3 linked regions of the Homo sapiens genome follow. The protein of the gene in region 1 interacts with the protein of each later gene in a biochemical or structural test. Each region holds a gene or a part of one and is shown in the gene's direction. Other genes may lie near its edges.

The links.
Region 2: of the proteins of MMP2 (region 1) and BCAN, one has a biochemical effect on the other in vitro, tested with the Homo sapiens proteins (one study listed by BioGRID).
Region 3: of the proteins of MMP2 (region 1) and CCN5, one has a biochemical effect on the other in vitro, tested with the Homo sapiens proteins (one study listed by BioGRID).

Annotation. Positions count from the first base shown.
Region 1 is NC_000016.10:55,503,198-55,507,191, forward strand, and holds the end of MMP2 (72 kDa type IV collagenase isoform 1 preproprotein), read left to right. Parts: intron 1-2,141; coding exon 2,142-2,245; 3' UTR 2,246-3,494; downstream 3,495-3,994.
Region 2 is NC_000001.11:156,645,117-156,652,116, forward strand, and holds part of BCAN (brevican core protein isoform 1 precursor), read left to right. Parts: exon of another isoform or gene 1-266; coding exon of another isoform or gene 267-393; intron 394-619; exon of another isoform or gene 620-930; coding exon of another isoform or gene 931-938; coding exon 939-1,029; exon of another isoform or gene 1,030-1,684; coding exon 1,685-2,059; intron 2,060-2,391; coding exon 2,392-2,566; intron 2,567-2,866; coding exon 2,867-2,994; intron 2,995-3,451; coding exon 3,452-3,745; intron 3,746-6,339; coding exon 6,340-6,573; intron 6,574-7,000. UniProt on the Homo sapiens protein: May play a role in the terminally differentiating and the adult nervous system during postnatal development. Could stabilize interactions between hyaluronan (HA) and brain proteoglycans.
Region 3 is NC_000020.11:44,718,214-44,725,557, forward strand, and holds part of CCN5 (CCN family member 5 isoform 1 precursor), read left to right. Parts: intron 1-1,683; coding exon 1,684-1,900; coding exon of another isoform or gene 1,901-1,908; intron 1,909-6,524; coding exon 6,525-6,779; intron 6,780-7,344.

The DNA of each region.
Region 1 (3,994 bases):
TGGGGTTTGATCCAGGCCCATTTGCGTTTTGCAGGAGGCCTGTGACCACCTCCCATTAGCAGAAGGATGGCTCCATTTGAGACAAGGCAAACTTTGTCATGCTCTGTTGCTCATGTGGCAAAGATCCTCCACTCAACCAGTTTGCCCCTGGCCCCCTGCTGATTAAAACACAACCAGTAGCAGCGAGGGATAGAATTTGGAGTTTGAAAATCATACTCTTGAGGAGGCATCTGTGAGCTTTCTAGGGTCCTGGAAATGGGTCCAGTTTGGCTTTTTTTAGAGGAGATTTCAACTAAATTCCACAGATTTTTTTTTTTTTGAGCACCTACTGTATGCTAAGCACAGGCCCTGACCTCCAGTAGCTGAAGGTCTTACATGTCCAAGAAAATGCAGTGTACAATCAGATGCTAGATTAGGAGTTATCTTCAAGAATAAACATCTATTGAGCACCTACTACATGCTAGCATATTAATAGTAAATGAGATTATGTATGTCAGGAGTCACAAACTCCAACAGCTCCATGTGTCAGGCAGGTAGCACAAATGAGTAAAGCAGGCAGGGGCAGACAGTGGGGAACTGTGGAGTCTGTGCGGAATCAGAGCACATGCCTCATTTACAGGAGACACTTTCTTCTCACCTTCAGATAATTATTGGCGGGCAAGATTAGGGGCCTAGGCAGCTGCCATGGTTCACACCTGTCATCCCAGCACTCTGGGAGGCCAAGGCAGGAGAACTGCTTGAGCGCAGGAGTTTGAGACCAGCCTGGGCAACATAGTGAGACTCTATCTCTACAAAAAAATTTTAAAAAACATTAGCTACACATGACGGCGCATACCTGTAGTCCCAGCTACTGGGGAGGGTGAGCAGAGAGGATCGCTTGAGCCCAGGAGTTTAAGGCTGCAGTGAGCCGTGTTCATGCCGCTGCATTCCAGACTGGGTGACAGAGTGAGACCTGGTCTCAAAAAAAAAGAATGGGGCCTGGTGTTGTTAGATATTCTATATTAGATATTCTAGTTTTTTTAAAGGAAGCCAGAAATCTGTACTTCTGTGTGACTTTTTGGATGTTTACATGTTGGCAAGTTATTCAGATTTAAAGACAAAACAAAACAAACTTGTGAGAGTCAAATAAAACCCATCTGTGGGCCTGACAGGACTGGATATATCCTGTTTTGCCACCTCTGGTACATGGAATGTGCTTAGTTTGATGCTTGTGTTAAGTGGAGTTATTGTTTTTAATAATAGCATATGTTATCTGACTTAATGCTCACTGCAAGCCCTAGAAGGTTGATAATCTTTATCCTCATCTTAGAGATGAGCAAACAGGGAATAAAAGAGCTTATTTCACAGCCATTTCCCTTCTTCCACTCCCAGAGGGGGCTCTTCTGGGCTTTTGTTGTGTTTTGGTTTTGTTTTTGTTTTCTTTTCTTCAATCAGCTCAGATTGAAACAATTGAATTTTTTTTTTTTTTTTTTTGAGACAGAGTCTCCCTCTGTCGCCCAGGCTGGAGTGCAGTGGCGCGATCTTGGCTCACTGCAAGCTCCGCCTACTGGGTTCACACCATTCTCCTGCCTCAGCCTCCCGAGTAGCTGGGACTACAGGCGCCTACCACCACGCCCGGCTAATTTTTTGTATTTTTAGTAGAGACGAGGTTTCACCATGTTAGCCAGGATGGTCTTGATCTCCTGACTTCGTGATCTGCCCGTCTCGGCCTCCCAAAGTGCTGGGATTACAGGCGTGAGCCACCGCGCCCCGCCACAGTTGAGTTTTTTTTTTGGCGGGGGGACAAGGTCTTGCTCTATCACCCAGGCTAGAGGCACAATCATAGCTCACTGCAGCCTCGAACTCCTGGGCTTAAGCGACCCTCCCACGTCAGCCTCCTAAGTAGCTTGGACTACAGGAATGTACCACTATACCCAGCTAATTTAAATATGTTTTTCGTAGAAATGGGGGTCTCTCTATGCTGCCCAAGCTGGTCTCGAACTCCTGGGCTCAAGCAATCCTCCTGCCTCAGCCTTTCAAAGCTCTCTTCTCGTTTAAAAGCTTCTTCCCTATGCCAGGCAGAAATTCAAAGTTCCCAGGAACCTTCTGTGTGCCAGAATGTCAGGATAAGGGGGTCACGGTCTCTTCTTTCTCTATCCCAGGTCACAGCTACTTCTTCAAGGGTGCCTATTACCTGAAGCTGGAGAACCAAAGTCTGAAGAGCGTGAAGTTTGGAAGCATCAAATCCGACTGGCTAGGCTGCTGAGCTGGCCCTGGCTCCCACAGGCCCTTCCTCTCCACTGCCTTCGATACACCGGGCCTGGAGAACTAGAGAAGGACCCGGAGGGGCCTGGCAGCCGTGCCTTCAGCTCTACAGCTAATCAGCATTCTCACTCCTACCTGGTAATTTAAGATTCCAGAGAGTGGCTCCTCCCGGTGCCCAAGAATAGATGCTGACTGTACTCCTCCCAGGCGCCCCTTCCCCCTCCAATCCCACCAACCCTCAGAGCCACCCCTAAAGAGATACTTTGATATTTTCAACGCAGCCCTGCTTTGGGCTGCCCTGGTGCTGCCACACTTCAGGCTCTTCTCCTTTCACAACCTTCTGTGGCTCACAGAACCCTTGGAGCCAATGGAGACTGTCTCAAGAGGGCACTGGTGGCCCGACAGCCTGGCACAGGGCAGTGGGACAGGGCATGGCCAGGTGGCCACTCCAGACCCCTGGCTTTTCACTGCTGGCTGCCTTAGAACCTTTCTTACATTAGCAGTTTGCTTTGTATGCACTTTGTTTTTTTCTTTGGGTCTTGTTTTTTTTTTCCACTTAGAAATTGCATTTCCTGACAGAAGGACTCAGGTTGTCTGAAGTCACTGCACAGTGCATCTCAGCCCACATAGTGATGGTTCCCCTGTTCACTCTACTTAGCATGTCCCTACCGAGTCTCTTCTCCACTGGATGGAGGAAAACCAAGCCGTGGCTTCCCGCTCAGCCCTCCCTGCCCCTCCCTTCAACCATTCCCCATGGGAAATGTCAACAAGTATGAATAAAGACACCTACTGAGTGGCCGTGTTTGCCATCTGTTTTAGCAGAGCCTAGACAAGGGCCACAGACCCAGCCAGAAGCGGAAACTTAAAAAGTCCGAATCTCTGCTCCCTGCAGGGCACAGGTGATGGTGTCTGCTGGAAAGGTCAGAGCTTCCAAAGTAAACAGCAAGAGAACCTCAGGGAGAGTAAGCTCTAGTCCCTCTGTCCTGTAGAAAGAGCCCTGAAGAATCAGCAATTTTGTTGCTTTATTGTGGCATCTGTTCGAGGTTTGCTTCCTCTTTAAGTCTGTTTCTTCATTAGCAATCATATCAGTTTTAATGCTACTACTAACAATGAACAGTAACAATAATATCCCCCTCAATTAATAGAGTGCTTTCTATGTGCAAGGCACTTTTCACGTGTCACCTATTTTAACCTTTCCAACCACATAAATAAAAAAGGCCATTATTAGTTGAATCTTATTGATGAAGAGACTGATGGCTCAAGAGAAGTGATTTTTCCAGGGTCCCATAGCTATTAGGGACCTACAAGGCCAAAGGATAGCCTAGCAGAGGAGCTTTAGCTCTCAAACCAGAATCTCACCACCCTCCGCCACCCTCAAAAACACCCCCACCACCTTCAAAACCGCTCCTGCTACCCTCCACCACCCCCAAAACCACGCTGGGTAAACACAGCTAAGGGAGAAATACTGTGCTTGCTTCTAAACACAGCTGGTATTAATGGATAAGCTCCTTACTCCTTCCTACCAGTCTACCCACTCCTAATCTCCTACATAGAAATTCTGGAGCTACTGCTGAACAGAAATTGAAGGCCTGGGGTTTTTCTGAGGCCCTTTCTGGCTCCGATAGTCTGATTGATAGTATATATATTGCTTCTGGCCTCTTATGATGGGGCTGGTGAGGAAGGTGCGTAAGGAGTGAACTCTACAGGTGACCTCCTCAGTGAGCCTGATGTCATTGTTTCTATCTCTTTT
Region 2 (7,000 bases), on another chromosome or scaffold:
GTTCTAGAGCTTCTGATAGCCAGGGGTAGGAAGGGGTAGCCCCTCCCATTTATTCTCCCCCCCCTTAGTCCACCCTCCAGCCCAAGGCTTTCACAAAAGGTAGGGTGGGGGAAGGGAGGGGCTGGATAGAGGCCAGACTGGCAGAGACAGGGGCTTTGTCCCAACTGATTTCTGAGCCAAGAGTTCCGGTGGGAAAGCCCGTGCCAGGCAGAAAGGAGAGGCTGGGAAGAAGAAGGGAGGAGGCAGCCAAGGAAGGGGGATGGAGAATGTTGGGGAGTAAAGAGAGGAGTTTCCTTACAAATAATGGTGGGGAGGAAGTAGAGGAGAGGGTGGGCTCAGGAGAAGCTGTGCTTACTTGCGTTCGGTCTAGGAGGCCCTCCTGGAAAAGGCCAGGTGAGTATGGTGTCCCTGGAGGCAGGGACAGTCTAGAAGGCAGAAGAGGCTAAAGAGATACTATGGGAGAAGGCTCTGGGTTCGAGGAAGGAGTCTGGCACTGGGAGGAGCAGATGGAATTCTGAGTATAAGAGCACCCACCATTCATGCTGTAAACTGAGCTCCTACTGTCTGCCTGGTGCTATGCATTTGTACAGGAGTTTTAAGATACTAAACACTCTCAAAGCACATGGTCCTATCTCAACTCATGAGATAGTAATGATGATGCTTTTTTATAAGTAAGAAAATAAAGGCTCAGAGAAGGTAAGGAGCTTGGCTTAGGTCACACAGTGAGTTGACTAGGACTCGGGTTTTGGTTCTGAGAAGAAATCACTTGCTGGGAAGATGGGGATCAGAAACAGAGAGTCCATGGTGATGTGAAGGTAGGGGACTTCTGGAGCCAGGATATGTGTGAACCCACATGGGTGTGGTAGGGAGCAGGGGGGAAGTCCATCCTGAAGTCTAACCCCATCTTTCCTTCTCATGTCCCTCTGTCAGCCTGCAGCATGGCCCAGCTGTTCCTGCCCCTGCTGGCAGCCCTGGTCCTGGCCCAGGCTCCTGCAGCTTTAGCAGATGTTCTGGAAGGAGACAGCTCAGGTAAGCAACCCCACTTGGGGTCACCGTCTCTGTCTTGTTCAGCCCTAACCAACTGCTTCCAGGCTTAGGGGCCCCAGGAAGAGAGAGAATTGGAGGGCTGTGGGGAAGCGTCCAGGCTGGAACACTTGGAAATAAGGGCTGAGCTGTGAGCATCTGGTGGGTTGGAGAAATCATGGGGCAGGACTAGGGAAGGGCACTGGGTGCAAGGCTTTGGGCCCCTAAGGTGGAGGATAGGGGATCCTGAAGCTAGGAGGTGGGAAAGGGGTGGAACTGGGAGAAACCCTGAAGGAGGCCCTAAAGGGAGCAGACTGGGAAACTGGGCTGGAGGACTCAGGGGGCGAGGTTGGAGGACCCTGGGGTGTGGTCTAGGAATTTTGGAGAGGAAGTGGAAGACTCTGAGAGCAGGGCAAGGAATCCTGGGGGCTGAATTGACTGGGAGACTTTGGGGGATGGGTCTGGAGACCGTCGGGGTGGTCCTGGAGGACCTAGAGGTAGGGCTGCAGGACCCTGGCCCCTGGCCCCTGGCCCCTGGTCCTAGGGGGGCCGGGGAATCCTGGGGCCGGAAGGAGGGATCCTGGAGCGGGGCTTGGAGGCCACCGGGTGGGACTCTGAGGGTCGACAGCGTTAAGTTCCAGCCGGCTCCACCCGTTCACAGAGGACCGCGCTTTTCGCGTGCGCATCGCGGGCGACGCGCCACTGCAGGGCGTGCTCGGCGGCGCCCTCACCATCCCTTGCCACGTCCACTACCTGCGGCCACCGCCGAGCCGCCGGGCTGTGCTGGGCTCTCCGCGGGTCAAGTGGACTTTCCTGTCCCGGGGCCGGGAGGCAGAGGTGCTGGTGGCGCGGGGAGTGCGCGTCAAGGTGAACGAGGCCTACCGGTTCCGCGTGGCACTGCCTGCGTACCCAGCGTCGCTCACCGACGTCTCCCTGGCGCTGAGCGAGCTGCGCCCCAACGACTCAGGTATCTATCGCTGTGAGGTCCAGCACGGCATCGATGACAGCAGCGACGCTGTGGAGGTCAAGGTCAAAGGTGAGAGGGCAGGGAGGTTCCAGAGGGAGGGAGGGAGGGAGGGAAGGGAGGACTCTTGCCTTCGGGGATCCCACAGTGTGAGAGGGAAGCAAAGGTAGCTGGAAGGCGCAGCCTGGGTTGGAAAAAGAGTGAGGAGACACGGGCCTTTGTTGTCTCCTTTCTCTCTTCAGGTGGAGGACATTCTACCCACAATCTAACTTAAGTCCCTCATGCTGTAGAGTGAGCACAATTGAACTTTATTTACCCTTGTGTACAGAGGAGTGACAAGGAGGGTGAGGGGAGGCCAGCGTGCTGGGTGCTCACCTGGCTCAGGGGTCCTCTCTGCCCCACAGGGGTCGTCTTTCTCTACCGAGAGGGCTCTGCCCGCTATGCTTTCTCCTTTTCTGGGGCCCAGGAGGCCTGTGCCCGCATTGGAGCCCACATCGCCACCCCGGAGCAGCTCTATGCCGCCTACCTTGGGGGCTATGAGCAATGTGATGCTGGCTGGCTGTCGGATCAGACCGTGAGGTGGGCAGGGGCTGTGGATTGGGGCTTCTATTGGCCCCTGAGGTGGCCATGGCCCCCCTTCTGCTGGGTGCTGCCTGCTGTGTCAGGCTGGACATGCAGGGCTTTTTGCCTCTGGGGGATGAGGCTGGTCTGAGGAGGGGAGGTGAGGACCCTGAGCATGTGCATCCCTGCAGTGCTAGAAGGACAGCCAGCTGTCAGCAAGTGTCTGCACTGTGGTGGCAGTGGGGTTCAATAGAATCAATATGGGCTGGCTCCCTGGTGAAAGCATCTGTACTAAGTGATTCTGTCCTTCCTCCCTAGGTATCCCATCCAGACCCCACGAGAGGCCTGTTACGGAGACATGGATGGCTTCCCCGGGGTCCGGAACTATGGTGTGGTGGACCCGGATGACCTCTATGATGTGTACTGTTATGCTGAAGACCTAAATGGTGATTAGGAGTGAGAGGTTCCCAGGGGACAATTTCCTACTCCCATGCTGCCCATAGGTCCTCCCGGGGCCTCTGCAGGACCTTACTATCCCTCCTGAGTTTAAGGGGGCAAGCAGGAGTAAGGAGACAATTGGTGTCCCTCTCTCCAAACACTGTCACAGAGGCAAGCTCATGACCAAAGTCTCAGCCAGGCAGCAGGATACCGAGTTTAACTCATCTACCACCTGCCAGGTGGACTCTGTGCATGACTCTGCAGAACAAGAAGTTTGGGCCCCATCTCTTTGAGCTCTAATATCCATCTTGAGGTTCTATTCAGACTATGATCCTATGAAGTAGAGTAGTTGACTCCCTGCCACAGATGAGGGAACTGGAGAAGCTTGCCCAGGGTTCCCATGGGAGACCAGAGTGGAAGGAGCTACCAGCTGCCTGATAACCCAGCCTTCTCTTCTCCACCCAGGAGAACTGTTCCTGGGTGACCCTCCAGAGAAGCTGACATTGGAGGAAGCACGGGCGTACTGCCAGGAGCGGGGTGCAGAGATTGCCACCACGGGCCAACTGTATGCAGCCTGGGATGGTGGCCTGGACCACTGCAGCCCAGGGTGGCTAGCTGATGGCAGTGTGCGCTACCCCATCGTCACACCCAGCCAGCGCTGTGGTGGGGGCTTGCCTGGTGTCAAGACTCTCTTCCTCTTCCCCAACCAGACTGGCTTCCCCAATAAGCACAGCCGCTTCAACGTCTACTGCTTCCGAGGTGAGCCCACCTCCCTGCAGAAGCTGAGACCAATCTCAGAAAGGCAGAGTTGAGTCCTAAAAGTCCTACCCCAGTCTGATCAGTTTAGCTCAGGGCTTTGCCATTTGCCTGAAGTGGTCGTGGGTGAAGTCCAGCTTGTCATCTAGGGTTCTAATTCTGGGCATGCCCTCTGGTGTGGTGTCTGTCAGCTGTTTGGCCCAAGGAGTAGTCACCTTTTGGCCTCTCCTTATCTGCCTTCCCACCAGTAGTCCATGCCTTGTTTGCTCCAGCTGGGCTGCTGAATAAGCTCCCATCTCCTGTCAGCTTATTGGCAGAGCAAAGACGACCAACATTCTGTGAATTCAATGAGTAATCTGCCCAAGTTCTTCCAGTCAACAACCAAATGCCCTCAGGAGCCCTCTGGAGGATTTCCAGAAACTACAGCTTAAGAAGGTGTCAGATCTTTAACTACCAAATACTGGTGGATGGATACAATTCCCCCAAAAGGGAGCAAGACCTTAAGTACAGTTGGGAATAGAGATAGCTTTCTGCCCACATCTTATGGCTTGTTTCTTTTTTTGAGACAGGGTCTCACTCCGTCCCCCAGGCTGGAGTGCAGTGGTGTGATCATGGTTCATTGTAGCCTCAACCTCCCTGGGCTCAGGGGATCCTTCCACTTCAACCTCCGGAGTAGGTGGGACCACAGGCTTATGCCACCATGTCTAGCAAATTTTTGTAATTTTTGTAGAGATGGGGTTTCACCACATGCCCAGGCTGGTCTTGAACTCCTGAGCTCAAGCAATCTACCTATCTTGGACTCCCGAAGTGCTGGGATTTATAGGTGTGAGCCACTGCACCCAAACCTGCCCATATCTTATGTTGGGAGCTGGAGCGGGAGGCAGTTTCTGGGACTCTCAGATGCAAAAGGCCCAGGCCAAGGGTGACCGACAATAAGAGAGGCATTGCCATGCGGTGTCTCGGTCCTTCCCCAGTTTTAAGCCTGAAATACTGTTACAAGAGCTGGAAGCAGAAATGGAAGGAGCAGACACAGCCTTGAACCTCAGGGAGCACTTGGTCTGAAGGATGAAGACACAGCTTTTGCCATGGGAACCCCCAGCAAAGGGAAGACAAGATGCCTCACTCCCAGGATGAGGAGAGACTGAGAGAAAAGCATTACTTCCATTTGGACAGATCTGTGGACATATTTGGCTGGGGTTGGGGAGGGGTGGGGAAGTAAAAGTCCATAGGAAGACAGGTCCATCTGAAAAGACCTCCTGGAACAGGGGTAGTAGTAGTAGTAGTAGTAGTAGTAATAATAATAATAGTAATAGCTAAAACTTCTGTGTGCTGGCTATGATTGTGTGCCAAGCCAAGCACTGTTTTGGAAAGAAATGGCCTGGATCATGAGGAGGGGCAGGGGAGGGGGAATATGACTACAGTTGGGACTACGATTGGTGGAGGACACAGGCAGCAAGGACACAAGGTCTGGTGAGGAGTAAGGCTCACTGGAGCAGGTGATGAGGGCAGGGACTCACTGTCCTGTCTTGCCTGGCTGAGCACAGACAGCCCTCAGGACTTTTCTTAGCCCAATTCCACCTTCACTTCATTGGTTTTCTGCTCTTGGCTCCCTTCCCCAGAGGACAAGTAAACCATTCTAAACTTCTGGTTATTTGAAAGGAGTAGGTCCCAGAAGGAGGTGGCCTTTTCCCTTGCCTACTTGCCCCACCACTGAGATCCTCAGGTGATGCCTGAAGTTATTCCTGCACTCTGCCCTCCAGCTATCCTGAGGGGATGACAGCCTCTCCCCTTCTATTTCAAGAATTTTGGAGGCTCGGTGCAGTGGCTCATGCCTGTAATCCCAGCACTTTGGGAGGCCAAGACCACTTGAGGCCAGGAGTTCGAGATCAGCCTGGCAAACACGGGGAAACCCTGTCTCTACTAAAAATACAAAAATTAGCCAGTTACGGTGGCACATGCCTGTAGTCCCAGCTACTTGGGAGGCTGAGACGGGAGAACCGCTTGAATCCAGGAGGCGAAGGTTGCAATGAGCTGGGATCGTGCCACTGCACTCCAGCCTGGGTGACAGAAGGAGACTCTGTCTAAAAAATAAAAGAATTTGGGGATACCTGGGACACCTCACACCTTGCCCCAAGCCCAAGATCACAAGGTGGTAAAGCTATTTCATCCATCCTGCTGGCTCCAGCCCCTCCCCCTAGGGAATATCTCTCACCTGAGCCTTTCCTGACCACTCCAAAGTAGTATTTTCCATCACTCCATCTTCTAACTCTGCTCAAGTGTTCTTTATCTTGTAAGATTATAATATATGTTTGTTTGTCATCTGTTCTAGAATATAATTTCCCTTGAGGGTAGGAGGTTTGCTATTTTGTTCTGCACTGTATCCTCAGTGCCCAGGGGAATGCTTGGCATGACACACTGTAGGCACTTGATGAATGCTTGAGAAATGAGTGACGAAGTTCTGGGATGCTCCCTGGGCCCCAGTAGGTGCTCCACAGGGAAGATGTGAGAGAATTGAGAGAATTCCATGGTGCAAGCTGTGACCTGGGAGGGCAGAGCTACCTATTCAGGCTCGCATCAATACTTTCCTCCTGCCACAGACTCGGCCCAGCCTTCTGCCATCCCTGAGGCCTCCAACCCAGCCTCCAACCCAGCCTCTGATGGACTAGAGGCTATCGTCACAGTGACAGAGACCCTGGAGGAACTGCAGCTGCCTCAGGAAGCCACAGAGAGTGAATCCCGTGGGGCCATCTACTCCATCCCCATCATGGAGGACGGAGGAGGTGGAAGCTCCACTCCAGAAGACCCAGCAGAGGCCCCTAGGACGCTCCTAGGTAAGTCGGATCCCTTATCCTAAGGATGTCTTGATTGAAAGAAGTTGGGGGCAGAAGAGGCAAGCCCAGGTTGATGCTAGGGTGATGGATGACATGACTCTGCCCTGTCCTTTCTCAGTAGCTCAGGGGTGCAGGGCACCTTTCCTGTCCCTCTCCCAACCTTTGCTTTTCCAGTAAATTCCACCCCCAACTCTATGGAGCTAGAGATGCTTGCACTAAGGAGCTGCGCCCTGGAAAGGTGGAACCTGCCTTCTTTGGTCCCTCTTCCGCCTCACACACCCAAAACAGACTAGAGTTTTGACAGAGTAGGAGGGAGACAAATGACCATGTTCTCCGGGGCTAATGATGGCTCACAGAGCCTTCTCAAGTGTTGCCTCAACAATATGGCTGGGGTCAAGTTCTTCCAGTGTGGCGCAAGGACCACCTG
Region 3 (7,344 bases), on another chromosome or scaffold:
GTTTGCAATGGCTCCTAGTGGCCGGCGTGGGAGTTGCCGGGAACTGAAAGCAGGTTTGCAGGATTGTGGGTAGTGGGGGCACTGGGCGGGGCAGAGGGTGAGGCAGAGCAAAGGGGTCATTGCCTGCTTTGGGGCTGCACAGGAGATATGAGGTCATTAATTCCATCATTATAAACTGCAAGCCTCCATTCCTCTAGATGAAACCCTCATCCCCTAAGGATCCTACTAAACTCAAACTTGGCCCCCCAAAGATGGGGCCACTGGAAGCATCTTGAATTATACTTCCTTCTTGGTCCCCACCTTCAAATGGGCAGACAGGGAGCTCACGGCACCTGCTGTATGCTTTGGTTGTTTCTCTGATGTGGGTGGCGAGGGTCAGGCAGGCCACATGGGCTGATACCCTGATCCTGTCTCTGGGGAGTGGGTCCCTGGCTTACGGACACAGTCTACCCCCATCCCGTGTCCCTGAGTCCTCACTTGGGAAGCAGGACCGGGGACGCTCCCAGCCCTGAATCGAACACACTGACGTGTGCTAAGTTCCTGTCCCTCTCTGGAGCTCAGTTTCCCCATCCGTACCTGGCAGGGGGAGGAGGTTAGACTGGGGCAGAGGTGCTGAAAACCTAGCTGAGCTTCAGAAGCCACTGGACAGCTTATTAAAAATAAAGATTCCAGGTCCCTGACTCTGGGACTTCTGATTTTGTAAGCCCCAGAGTGGGTTGGGGGTCTGTATTTTCCCAAGTCTCCTGGCTGATGTGATGTACCTCCAGAGCTGGGACACATGCTGAATGGATCGAAAGGCCAAAAACATCCATGATATGGTTCAATTTATTCAGTCCTAAGATAAGTATCCGTATGCTGGAAAATGTACCAGACCCTACCATTTTCATCCTTGACTTGTTGCTTTTGCCTTTCTGTAAGCTCCCAGAGGGCTGGGGCTGAGCCCTCTGCCACCATTAACAACAAGGATCATCAAAGCTAAGTGCAGTGAGCGCCTACTGCATGCCAGGCCCTGTGCTGAGGGTTTGCTGTGCAGCATTTCATGTACTCCTCAGAGCAATCCTCTGAGTTAGATACTTTGAGGAAACTGAGGCTCAGAATGCTTAAGTAACTTCCTCAAGGTCACTCAGCTAATAAGGGGCAGAATTAGAACTGGAAGTCTAGCCAGGTGCAGTGGCTCATGCCTATAATCCCAGCACTTTGGGAGGCCGAGGCGGGCGGATTGCCTGAGCTCAGGATTTCAAGACCAGCCTGGGTAACATGGTGAAACCCCATCTCTATTAAAAATACAAAAATTGCCAGGCATGGTGGTGGGCGCCTGTAGTCCCAGCTACTCGGGAGGCTGAGGCACGAGAGTCGCTTGAACCCAGGAGGTGGAGGTTGAAGTGAGGCTGGGATCGCGCCACTGCACTCCAGCCTGGGCAACAGAGCCAGACTCTGACTCCAAAAATAAAAATAAAAAATAAAGAACTGGAACTCTAGTCCAGAGTCCTTGCCCATAACTACATGCCATACTGCCTCTTAGGGCATGTTGTGGGACTACTGGCCTTTGAGGCCAGGTCTGCATGGCTCTGAGGCTAAGGTGTGGACACCACACTACCCAGCCTGGCAGAGAAGTGGCTGGTTGTGAGGGTCTCACTGCCCACCTCGAAAGCCCGTGGCTGAGTGAGGTCTCTGTCTCTTCAGGTGCGTACCCAGCTGTGCCCGACACCATGTACCTGCCCCTGGCCACCTCCCCGATGCCCGCTGGGAGTACCCCTGGTGCTGGATGGCTGTGGCTGCTGCCGGGTATGTGCACGGCGGCTGGGGGAGCCCTGCGACCAACTCCACGTCTGCGACGCCAGCCAGGGCCTGGTCTGCCAGCCCGGGGCAGGACCCGGTGGCCGGGGGGCCCTGTGCCTCTGTAAGCAGGTTTGCAGGACTGAGTGGGGGCGGGTGTGAGCGGGAGGTCAAGGCCGTGGTGTCCTGGATCAAAGTGCAGCCCTCCTCTCTCTACCTCCTTGGGTGCTCACTTCAGGTATCCCATCCATTCCAGCTGAACTTGGTGTCCCAAAGCCCACTCCCCACTCCCTCCTCTCCCTTCTTGGCCTCTGCTTAAACCATCTCACTACCCCAATAACCTTTCCCCATCCCTACCTGTCCAAATCATTGCCAACTTTCAAAGCCAAGTTCAAACAGCTTCTCCCCTGAGAAGCCCCCCCAGATTCTTCAAACCAGATGCCACCACTCCCTTCTCAGGATCCTTACAACACTTTGGGGAAAATAAAAGTGCAACCTTTTAGGGCATAATATGTGTCCAGAACTGTGCTAAGCACTTACTACACAAGTCACATCATCCTCACAATAACCCTATGATGGGAAGTACTTTCAGACCTATTTTATGAATGAGGAAACAGGTTCACCAGCATTAAGGGACATGCTTCATGTCACACGGCACGGGACCAGATCCAACGGGCTCTAAGGAACAGTTTATTCTGTCTTCTCCCATAGTGGGGGCCCTCGGAGCACTGCTGGGATCCTGGGTTTGCCATGTATTCAGCAGTCACCCGAGCATGTGACATTCCTCACCACTCTTCTAGGCCTTGGTATTCTCTGATGCTTCGGGGCAGGGCTTTGCAAGCTGGCTCCAGTGACTGGGTGCCAGAGAATTAGTTGTTGTGGGAGGGCTGTCCTGTGCATGGTAAGACTTCTAGCAGCATCCCCGAACTCCACCCACTGTATGCCAGCAGCACTCCCCATCCCCCAAGTCATGACAGTCTGTCTTCAGACAGTGCCAAATTTCCCCAGGGGGCAAAATCTCCAGTTGGGAACCATCACTTTAGAGAAATGCAAAGAGGCAAGAGATTGTTCTTCTTTTTTCTTTTTTAATAATAAGCCTTGTAGAACAATTTGCCTCTTTCATCTATGTGCATGTCACACTTTTATAAAAATAAGAACGAAAGAGAGAGAGAGAGAAGCTCATGAATCATTGATAATGAATTCATCTGTAGGAAAAGCCTTGTTAAAAAACAACAGGCCAGGCACAGTGACTCATGCCTATAATCCTATCAGTTTGGGAGACTGAGGCGGGACGACCACTTGAGCCCAGGAGTTCTAGTCCAGCCTTGGCAACATAGTAAGATCCTCTCTCTATCAAAAAAAAAAAAAAAAAATTAGCCGGGTGTGGTGGCACATGCCTGTGGTCCCAGCTACTTGAGAGGCTGAGGTGAGAGGCTCGCTTGAGCCTGGGTGTTTGAGGCTGCAGTGAGCCATGGTTGCGCCACTACATTCCAGCCCGGGCAACAGACCAAACCCTATCTCCAAAAAAAAAAAAAAAAAAAAAAAAAAGTAATAACTCCATGTGAAATGCTTTATTTACAAGTACTGTAAGGATAAGGAGGGTGATTCGTTACACTGACTGAGGGATGATTGCTTATGAAAATGTATCTGAAGAACAATTGAGATAAGTAACACTTCGCTTACAAAGCTGTTATTTACATTTGCTGTGACACGTGTAAACAGCACCCACAGAGTTTATTTTACACTTGCACAGCCCTTACCACGTGTAAGACACTGAGGGTTTCACAAATATAAACTCATTTAATCTCACAACCACATGAGGTAGGTACCCTTCTCTTATAAATGGAAAAAAGGGGTACAGAGAGGCTAAGCAACTTGCCCAAGGTCACACAGCTCATAAGCGGCAGAGCTGAGATTTGAACTCAGGGAGCTGGCTCCACAAGCTCCATTGCTCAACTGCCTGACATGCAGCAGTTGATTAGTACATAGGCTGTGATTGTTAATAACTGTATTAAGGGATTTTTCTTATTCCATCTTAATTCAGACTTCAAACACCTGCAGGCCAAAGGCGTACTTGGGTCCCTGGTCCTTCCTGCAACTTCCCACCTTGGTCTGTCAACATGATGGGTGCTCAACAGTGTTTAATGATTTAAACTGAATTTAGAGGCCGGGAACTGGTGAACCCCAAAGAGTCCAGCTAAGACATCACAAAGGCTCAGTCTAGGGCTTTGCAGGGAACATACTGCCAAAAACCTCTCCCATCACTTACTCGTTGAACGCTCTTCTCTAAGGGCCAACTCTGAGCTGTGAGATGTGCTGCAGATTCACCATCGTGATAACAGCGCATCCAATGCCGGGATCCTGATCTTCCGCCCCCCAGAACGGCCTCCCCAGTCTGTTGAGAGCACCTCCATCCTTCTCATGGCTCAGACTCAAGACCTGGGAGTCGTTCTAGAGGTCTCTCTATCTCTCTCTCTTTTTTTTTTTTTTTTTTTTGAGATGGAGTCTCACTCTTTCACCCAGGCTGGTGTGCAGTGGCAGGATCTCAGCTCACTGTAACCCCATCTCTTGCGTTCAAGCGATTCTCACGCCTCAGCCTCCCAAGTAGCTGGGATTACAGACACATACCACCATGCCTCGCTAATTTTTGTATTTTAGTATTTCAGTAGAGACGGGGTTTCACCATGTTGGCCAGGCTGGTCTGGAACTCCTGACCTCAAGTGATCCACCCGCCTCGGCCTCCCTAAGTGCTGGGATTATAGGTATGAGCCACCACAGCCGGTCTAGACATCTCTCTTTTCTCACCTCCCACATACCACCCACCAGCAAATTCATCGTGTATTTCCAGCATCCGACACTCCCATCCCTTCTGGTCTGAGCCCCGTCATCATTGGCCTGGATTTTGCAGTAGCCCCATAATCATCTCCCTCCTTCTGTCGTTGCCCCTGGTCTATTCACAACACAGCAGTCAGAGAGCTCCTGGGAAGTCATAAGCCAGATCACCTCCCTCCTCTGCCCCAAGCCTTCTGGTGGCTTCCCATCTCAGAGGAAAAGCCAAAGTCCCCACAGTGGCCTACAAGGCCCCAACAGGATCCTGTTCATGCTTCCTCTCTGACCTCCTCTCCTCCTGCTCTCTGCTCCAGCCACATTGGCCCCTTGCTGTTCCTTAAATACCCCAGGCACACTCGTGCCTCAGGGCCTTTGCACTGGCTGTTCCCTCTACCAGCATTATTTCTCAGCAAGGCCTTCCCTGCTGGAGGATTAGATGAGCTAGGGGACTTACAGCATTTTGCCCCAAGCCTGGCACATAGCAGATGCTACGTGGAAGCATAACCCTCTCCTGTTTATTGAGCATCTGCTATGTGCCAGGCTTGGGGCAAAATGCTGTAAGTCCCCTAGCTCATCTAATCCCCCAGCAGCCCTGTGAGCCGGGTACCAAGGCTCAGAGAGGCAAAATAACTTGCCCCAGGCCCCACAAGTGGGAGCCAGAGTTGGAACCTAAGTATGTGTGGTTTTGGTTCTGAAACCCCTGTGTGTGTACAGACCTACTGGAAGGTTTTCTCAGAAGATCTGGGAGAACTTGTTTGCTAATGAGTCCTTTCCCCAGACGTAGCTCAGTGGCCACCCAGGTCTCACACACACGCTGTTTCCCGTCTGCACTTCCTGAGCAGCTCACACGCTTCACCAGCGCTCTTACTTCATTCTGTCTTGGAGATGATGCCCTCACACCCGTCCCCCTTTCCCAAGCCCATGAGTCCCTCAAGGCAGGAACTGTCCTCTTTCTGTCTGGGAGCACAGTGGTTGGCACACAGGCGGGAAACAGTAAATATCTCTGGAATGATAAGGAGTAGGGCTATTTTATCAGGGTCTCTCATGTGCCAAGGCTTATGCCAGCTATTCACTGAAGGGGCATTCCTACAGTACTGTGTGTCGCACCTAGGCTCTGAGCCCACCGGAGGGTGCAGAGACGCACACTGGCCGCCCCAGCCCTCAAGGAGTTCATGTCCAGTGGAGGAAGTGGCAATAACACCCATATCTTGAGGGCTTCATTGAAAGAGTGTTCCCTGAGCACCTAGGCCATGCCTAGCACTGTGTGCTAGAGGGTACGGACATGTCATCCCATGGAACCTGAAGTTACGATTACTGAGCTCATCATTGCTGTAGTTCAGGCCACTCAGAGAAGTTAAGTAACTTACTCAAAGACACACAGCCAGCAAGTTAAGCCCTGACCTGACAGTGATGACAGCACAAGTGGACAACGACTTTGTTGCATGAAATCTCAGCGTGTATAGAATACTTAAACTTTATTAATATATAGTAACTATACTAATGATAATAACAGAGTAGCTAGGACCTATGGAAGGTCTCTTTTATGTTGTGATCATTACGCCTATCATTCCGAGTAGTCTCTACCACCCTGGAAAATAAGTACCATTATATCCCAGCTTGCAAATGTGGAAACTGAGGCAAGAAGAAGTGAAATCACTTGGCCCAGGTTCACAGCTAAGAAAGGGCAGAGTTTGGGGGGTCAATCCAGGCCTGTCTTCTTGCAATCCCTGTGCCGGGATCCAGGGTGCCCCAGCAGGCTGGTGGAGGGCTGGGGAGAGGTGCATATCCTGGGCTGGAGCCCTGGGCAGGGCCCAGCTACTGTGAGGCAGCTGCCTCAGGCAGCGGGATCTGGGCAGCTCTGCAGAGAAGGCTGTGCCGCTTTGCGGGTCACCGATGGGGGTGCGGTTTTTCCTCCGCAGTGGCAGAGGACGACAGCAGCTGTGAGGTGAACGGCCGCCTGTATCGGGAAGGGGAGACCTTCCAGCCCCACTGCAGCATCCGCTGCCGCTGCGAGGACGGCGGCTTCACCTGCGTGCCGCTGTGCAGCGAGGATGTGCGGCTGCCCAGCTGGGACTGCCCCCACCCCAGGAGGGTCGAGGTCCTGGGCAAGTGCTGCCCTGAGTGGGTGTGCGGCCAAGGAGGGGGACTGGGGACCCAGCCCCTTCCAGCCCAAGGTGAGCGCAGCGGTGGTCCAGGTCAGGGCAGGACTGCCTGGGGGCGCCAAGGGCCACCTAGGGGGTGGGGTGGGGGGCGGCTTCCTGGGTACCAGGACCCAGGGACACATCAGAAGCTGGGAGGGGCGGAGGCTGAGGAGGGAGATAAGAAAGAGGAGTGGAGGGCCGGGCGCTGTGGTTCACCCTTGTAATCCCAGTACGTTGGGAGGCCAAGACGGGCGGATCACCTGAGGTTAGGAATTCGAAACCAGCCTGGCTGACATAGGAAAACCCCGTCTCTACTAAAAATTCAAAAATTAGCCTAGCATGGTGGCGGGCATCTGTAGTCCCAGCTACTTGGGAGGCTGAGGCAGGAGAATCGCTTGAACCCGGGAGGCAGAGGTTGCAGTGAGCCCAGATCACACCACTGCACTCCAGCCTGGCCGACAAGCACGAAACTTCATCTCAAAAAGAGGAAAAAAGAAAGAGGAGTGGAGGGTCACCAGGCCTCCCTCTTTAAAACCAATAAACAAAAAGCCACTGCCTTTGAGATGTGTAATTTAAAACCATAAATAATTAAAAATAA